Linked DNA regions of Homo sapiens. The protein of the gene in region 2 interacts with the protein of the main gene of each other region in a biochemical or structural test. Each region holds a gene or a part of one and is shown on either strand. Other genes may lie near its edges.

The links.
Region 1: of the proteins of RPS6KB1 (region 2) and NR1I2, one has a biochemical effect on the other in vitro, tested with the Homo sapiens proteins (one study listed by BioGRID).

Annotation. Positions count from the first base shown.
Region 1 is NC_000003.12:119,788,536-119,792,191, reverse strand, and holds part of NR1I2 (nuclear receptor subfamily 1 group I member 2), read right to left. Parts: intron 1-3,656. UniProt on the Homo sapiens protein: Nuclear receptor that binds and is activated by variety of endogenous and xenobiotic compounds.
Region 2 is NC_000017.11:59,934,601-59,938,256, reverse strand, and holds part of RPS6KB1 (ribosomal protein S6 kinase beta-1), read right to left. Parts: intron 3,065-3,656; coding exon 2,957-3,064; intron 2,043-2,956; coding exon 1,980-2,042; intron 1,794-1,979; coding exon 1,716-1,793; intron 680-1,715; coding exon of another isoform or gene 631-679; exon of another isoform or gene 483-630; intron 1-482. UniProt on the Homo sapiens protein: Serine/threonine-protein kinase that acts downstream of mTOR signaling in response to growth factors and nutrients to promote cell proliferation, cell growth and cell cycle progression.

The DNA.
Region 1 (3,656 bases), on a different chromosome or scaffold from region 2:
AGTAGTGATGGATGGCAGCACACGCTCATCATAGTCTTCTCCGATCCTGGTGAAGATGCGAGGAAGCTGGCTAGTGACAGGCCCAAAGAGGATGCACGGAATGATATTGACATTCTGTAAATCTTTGCTACCAGTGATGACTGGCACATTATGTGGTTGAGAACGGTGGTCAAAGATAATTGGTTTCTGTACCCATGGTATGAGAAAGTGAGTCCCTTACCCTACCACAATGTCCTGTACTCCACAGAATCGGTCAAAGATGACAGTTCTGTGCCCAGCATCCATGTTATATAAGGCAGAGTTCACCATGCCTTCTGCAACAGCTAAGGCCAGTCCAAACTTGCCGATGGACTCAAACACTTGGCAGCTATGTTTTCTTCTGTTGAACCCTCTCACACCTGTTTCCACTCTGAACTCCACATCTAATTTTTGTATTTTTAGTAGAGATGGGGTTTCACCATGTTGGCCAGGCTGGTCTCAAACTCCTGACCTCAAGTGATCCGCCCGCCTCAGCCTCCCAAAGTGCTGGGATTACAGTTGTGAGCCACTGAGCCCGGCCTAGAGGTCATATTTCAACATGAGATTTGGAAGGGATAAAACATCCAAACCATATCACTGATTTTGACAAGAGACCCATCAAGTAACTTTTTTTTAGGACAGGGATGATCAAAGAATGCTTTTGATAGAAAATGGTATTACTTCCTTCCTCCATCAGAAGAAGACAGGTGTGTCACATGAGCTGTCAACATTGGTGAAGCAATCACACAAGGGGACAAATGGTGTTACATAGGAGTGTTCACAGCCTCCCACCTCTCCTTGTACAGGAGACTCTCATAGATGTTAATCTAGCCTGACATTGCAGGAGGAGGCCACTCTGGAGGCCAAGCCCACCCCAAACCTGCTCTCAGAGAAGCTCCTGGTGCCCAAGCAAAGGTCCATAGGCCTTCTGGGGCCTATGAGGGATGGTGTAATTGCTCTGTCCCAGGGACAAGTAATTCCCTGGCCCATTTAGATCCTCTTCTAGTGAGTCTGGATGTCAGACATACAGACAGAGCTAAGTTATAAGGTCTGCTGGCTGGACTGCTGCCCAGGGGGCTGCCATATTCAAAGACACCAAAACATTATTGGAATGAATCAGAAATCAGGTGAATTTTAGATTGCCTCCTTTCCTACCAAAGCAGTCATCACCCTGAGGTGGAGACTTAAAACACTCCTTGACAATGCAGACTAGTATCTGTACGGTGCTCAGGGACACTCACATGCCTGTCACACAGGGCCACTCCAGCCAACCCAACCCTGAGGACAGCCCATTGAAGTTGGCAGACAGAGCCAGAAATGGAAAAATATGTGGTGTAGGGCTGTTTGCAAGGAAGAAATGTACTGTTTTATTATGTGAACACTTAAACATGCCTTCCAAGAAGTTGTGTGGTTTGGAAAATTACACAGAATAAATTATTTATTTTGACCATAAAGAACATAGTACACATTTAAAAGAACATCACTTGCCAACAAGCACATGAAAAAGTACTCAACATCGTTAATCATAAGGCAAATGCAAAGGGAAACCATAATGAAACATCACTTTATATTCAGGATGGCCGCTATCACATAAACAGAAAATAACAAGTGTTGGCAAGGCTGTAGACAAATGGGAACCTTGGACTCAGGTGGTAGGAATGTAAAAATGGTGTAGCCATTATAGATAACAATATGGCAATTTCTCAGAAAATTGAAATAGAATTATCATATAATTCAGCAACCATTTCTGGATGTATATCCAAAAAGAACTGAAATCGGGGTCTTGAAGAGATATTTGTACACTGATGTTCACAGCAGCACTATTCGCAATAGACAAAATGTAGAAGCAACCCAAATTTCATCAACTGATGAATGGATAAACAAAACATGGGACATACTACAATAGAATATGAGTCAGCCTTAAAAAAAAGGAAATTCTAACACATGCTACAATACGGATGAACCTTGAGGACATTATGCTAAGTGAAATAAGCCAGTCACAGAAAGACAAATATGAGGTATAGTAGTCAAGCTCATGGAAGCAGAAAGTAGAATGGTGGTTGCCAGGGGCTGTGGGGTGAGGGGAATGGGAGTTGTTTAATGGGTAGAGTTTCCATCTTAAAAGATGAAAAACCTCTGGAGATTGGCTGCACAACGATGAAAACATACTTCACATTATTGAGCTATACACTTAGAAATGCTTAAGATGGTAAAATTTGTTATTTGAATTTTACCAGAACTAATTAATTTTTCAATCCTGCTCCTTCTGTATATTTTACAAATTAAAAAAAGAACATCACCAAATAAATGTTGATCAAATATTTAAATAATATTTAAATTGAATTTAAATTGAAAAGGAAGCCAAAATAGTAGACTGGTTGGGGTGCCTCAGTCCTGCCCTGTGCATGGCAGCCACAGTGCACTCAGAGAGAAGGCAGGACAGGGAAGCTGTGAAGCAGGAAGGGCCCCGAGGAAACAGAAGTTGTGAGGAGGAGAAGCAGCAGAAAGAAAGGAAACAAAGGAAAGTAACATCAATAGTTGATATGGTTTGGCTGTGTCCCCACCAAAATCTCATCTGGAATTGTAGCTTGCATAATGCTACATATGTGGGAGGGACCTGGTGGAAGGTAATTGAATCATGGGGGCGGTTCCCCCAATACTGTTCTCATGGCAGTGAATAAGTCTCATGAGATCTGATGGTTTTATAAGGGGAAACCCCTTTCGCTTGGTTCTCATTCTCTCTCTTGCCTGACACCATGTAAGACATGCCGTTTGCCTTCCACCATGTTTGTGAGGCCTCCCCAGCCACATGGAACTGTGAGTCCATTGAACCTTTTTTTCTTTGTAATTTACCCAGTCTCAGGTATGTCTTTATCAGCAATGTGAACATGGACTAATACAGTAGTTAAAAGCACTACAATCAGGAAGAAAAAGATAACCATGTCAATTAAAGTGCATTTGATCCCAACCTGAGTTCTGAACTACATTTTAATCTCTAGGAGGTCAGGGCCCTGGCAATTGAGATTTTTGCCTTCCTTCTCTCCCATGCCTGCTTCAGAAGTGCCCCCGTTTAAGGTAACCTGGAGCCTGTGCTTACAATCTAAGAGAGTGATGCTCCAGCTTTCAAGTACATACAGATCACCCAGGAGCTTATGAAAATGCAAATTCCCATTCAGTAGGTCTGTGGTGGGTCTGAGCTTCAGCATCTCACAAGCTCCCAGGTGAGCTGATGCTATGGGTCTGCAGTCCACACTTGCAGTAGTAGCAGGGAAATCCAACTAACCAGACAGAAAATTGGCAGTACACAAACAGACTGGCATGGAGAAGATGATCTTGTCAATAAAAACAACTTTATGGTGCTAGGAAATAAAATAAATAATCAAAGAGATATGTGAAATGACTCACATTATAAATTGTTGTTTAAAGTCAATATACAGGCCGGGCACAGTGCCTCACACCTGTAATCCCAGCACTTAGGGAAGCTGAAACAGGAGGATCATTTGAGGCCAGGAGTTCGAGACAAGTCTGGGCAATACAGTGAGATGCCATCTCTACAAAAAAATAAAAAATTAGCCAAGTGTGGTGACATGTGCCTGTAGTCCCAGCTACTTGGGAGGCTGAGGCAGGAAGAACACTTG
Region 2 (3,656 bases):
AGGCTGCCATGAGCCACTATCATGCCACTGCACTCCAGCCTGGGCAACAGAGAAAGACCCTATCCCCCCCCCAAAAAAAAAAAAAAGAAAGAAAAGAAAAAGGAAAAAAAAAAAAAAACAACTAAGGAAACTGTCAACTTCTGAGGTGTGATGATGGGATGGCAGTTATGTTTAAACAAGATGACCTAATCATTTTTTAAGCTGGGCAGTAGGTATATGACAGTTAACTTCCTTACAATTGTTTGTTGTTTTTTAAAGTGGGGACATTATGCTCCATGACCAAAAAATAATCACCATCATCATCCTCCTCCTTCTCCAACTACATCCTAAGGAATGGAAAAAGAAACTGTATTTTCTCAGATTCTGAGGTGGGAGAAGGACAATAACTAACACACTAACTGATTTACTCACAAACATATTGTTATGGGTTGAATCGTGTGCCTTACCCACCCCCAAAAAATTTCGTACATTGAAATTCTAACCTCTAGTTCCTCAGAATGTGACCTTATTTGGAAAGGGTTATTGCAGATGTAATTAGTGAAGATGAGGTCCTACTGGAGTAGAGAGGAACCCTAATCCAATATGCCTGGTATCCTTATAAAAAGGGGAAATTTGGCCACAGATATGCACACAGGTAGAACACCATGTGAACATGAAGGCAGAGATCCGGGTGATGCACCTACAAGCCAAAGAATGACAAAGATTACCAGCAAACCACCAGAAGCCAGGGGAGAGGCATGGAACATACAGTTTCTCACAGTAGTCAAAGAAACCAACTCTAACAATGTGATCTAGAACTTCTAGTCTCCAGATCTATGAGATAATAAATTTCTGTTGTCTAAGCCACCCGGTTTGTGGTACTTTGTTGCAGCAAGCCTAGCAAACGAATGCACACATATTCTATACTTTGAAGAAAAAATTCCCAGAGAATCATATTTAAAATGGTTAAATTAAGCAAAATAAAACAAACCAAAAAAAGGAAAGTCCCAACTACCTGAAATATTTGTCTTAGGTAACTGACTTAAAAATAGCTAATACAGTCAATTGCCACTGGGTTTAGTTCTTTACAAGATAGTACAAAAATAAAAGATGCTTGGCTGGGTGCAGAAGCTCACACCTGTAATCCCAGCACTTTGAGAGGCTGAGGTGGGTGGATCACTTGAGCCCAGGAGTTCAAGACCAGTCTGGGTGACATGGCAAAACCCTATTTCTATAAAAAATACAAAAAAATTAGCTAGGCATGGTGACACGTGTCTGTAGTCGTAGCTATTTGGGAAGCTGAGGTGGGAGAATCACCTGAGCCTGGGGAGGTCAAGGCTGCATTGAACTGTGATCGTGCTGCTGCACTCCATCCTGGGTGACAGAGTGAGACCCCATCTCAAAATAAAATAAAATAAAGATGCTGGAGAGGATAGACCAGAGATCTTTGAACTGCTAATAAAAATAATGTTTCTGTCTGCTCTGAGATTTTTCTTATTCTAAAAAAATATCAAGCGATCCTCCTGCCTCAGCCTTGCAAGTAGCTGGGACTTACAGGCACAAGCCGCCACACCCAGCTAACTTTTAAATGTTTTGTAGATATGGAGTCTTGTTATGTTGCCCATGCTGGTCTTGAACTCCTGGCCTCAAACAATCCTCCCACCTTGGCCCTTTAAAGTTTGGGGATTACAGGCGTGAGCCACTGCACCCAATTATACACTTTCATGTATACTTACCAACAGAGGTTTAAAGGGGGGCTCCACCTTTCGAGCCAGAAGTTCTTCCCAGTTAATGTGTCTAAAGAATGGATGAGCCTAGGAAAAAAAAAGCAGGAAGAAAAGTTGAGGGGACTAGACTTTGCTGGATTGATAAATTAATCACCTTTTTGAAGTTACAAGTCACAAAATAAGCTAAACTTATAAGCAACTACATATAACCCTCAGAAATACATAAAACTAGCATTATCTTCCCCACAAAACACCAAAGATGCCAATCCCTACTTGAACTTCTCCAGCGTCCCCAGGACCAGCTCCCAGACGAGAAGCAGCATTTCTTTTCAGCAGCTTTAAAGAGGAAAAAAAGCTTGGATAAAGAACCTTAGTCAAACTGATTTTTTTTTTTCCTTTTTAGACTGTGCTTGTCTACTTTGGCTTGAGAAAATATAGTTTATTGGCCAGGCACAGTGGCTCATGCCTGTAATCCCAGCACTTTGGGAGGCTGAGGCAGGTGGATCACCTGAGGTTGGGAGTTCGAGGTTGGCCAACATGGTGAAACCCCTTCTCTACTAAAAATACAAAAATTAGCCTGGCGTGGTGGTGAACACCTGTAATCCCAGCTACTAGGGAGACTGAGGCAGGAGAATCACTTGAACCTGGGAGGTGGAGGTTGCAGTGAGAGCCAAGATCATGCCATTGCACTCCAGCCTGGACGACAGAGCAAGACTCCATCTCAGAAAAAAAAGAAAAGAAAAGAAAAGAAAATATAGTTTACTAATTACTACTTAATATTGTTTAAGGGTCTGTAATCCCAGCACTTAGCACTTTGGGAGGCCAGGGCAGGTGGATCACCTGAGGTCAGGAGTTCCAGACCAGACTGACCAACACGGTGAAACCCTGTCTCTACTAAAAATACAAAAATTAGCCGGGCGTGGTGGCGGGTGCCTGTAATCCCAGCTACTTGAGAGGCTGAGGCGGAAGAATCGCTTGAACCTGGGAGACTGAGGTTGCAGTGAGCCAAGATCGCACCACTGCACTCTAGCCTGGGTGACAGGGCAAGACCCTGTCTCAAAAAAAAAAAATTTAAAAAAAGAATATGAAAAGAAAGTCTTTAAACAAATCTGTACTTCGCCTTCAAAAATTGAAGACTTTTTTGTTCAATATTTATATATGACTCTTTATTCAAAATATACATTAAATTCTATCTAGTTAAATCCTAGTCATTGAATCTTGTAGTGTCAGTGACCATTTAAGAACCTTACCTTTTTAAGCAGATCTCTGGCTTCTTGTGTGAGGTAGGGAGGCAAATTGAGTTTACATTTGAGGATTTTGTCAATTGTTTTCTTTCTATTCTCCCCAGTGAATGGGGGCTAAGAGTAGAAGACAAGTGAAAAATATTAGCAGGGAGAGAAAAATATTAGCATATAAGAAACAAATTTTGAATAATATTATCCATTTCCTAAATTAGTTATACATGGAGATCAGAAATGTATGCTGTGAAATGGGCTAACTGCTAAAGACCTTTATTTTGTTTTACAGACAGGGTCTCAACTATGTTGTCAAGGCTAGATTCTATTAATAATCCTTAGCTCAAATGATCCTCCCACCTCAGCCTCCTGAGTAGCTTAGGCTACAGGCATGCACCACTGTGGCCGGCAGACGTGCAGTTTTTAAGCAACAGGACAGAGGAAGTAGCAGTGTCCTGGAAGGAAGCCTGTGTTTCCACCATTAACTTTCTGTGTGATAAGTGAGCTATGTGATTTTATGCTTCAATTTCTCCATTTATAAAATAAGGGCATTATCTATTCAACATCTATTTCACAGGCCTGCCATGACATAGATCATTTAAAAGAAAATGTTTCGGAAAGTATGGGATCCCATATAATCATACAGCATTATTAGTGTTAAACTGCTAATAACAAATCTTTGGGCTTTGAAAACTCCACTGGTAACATGTTCAGA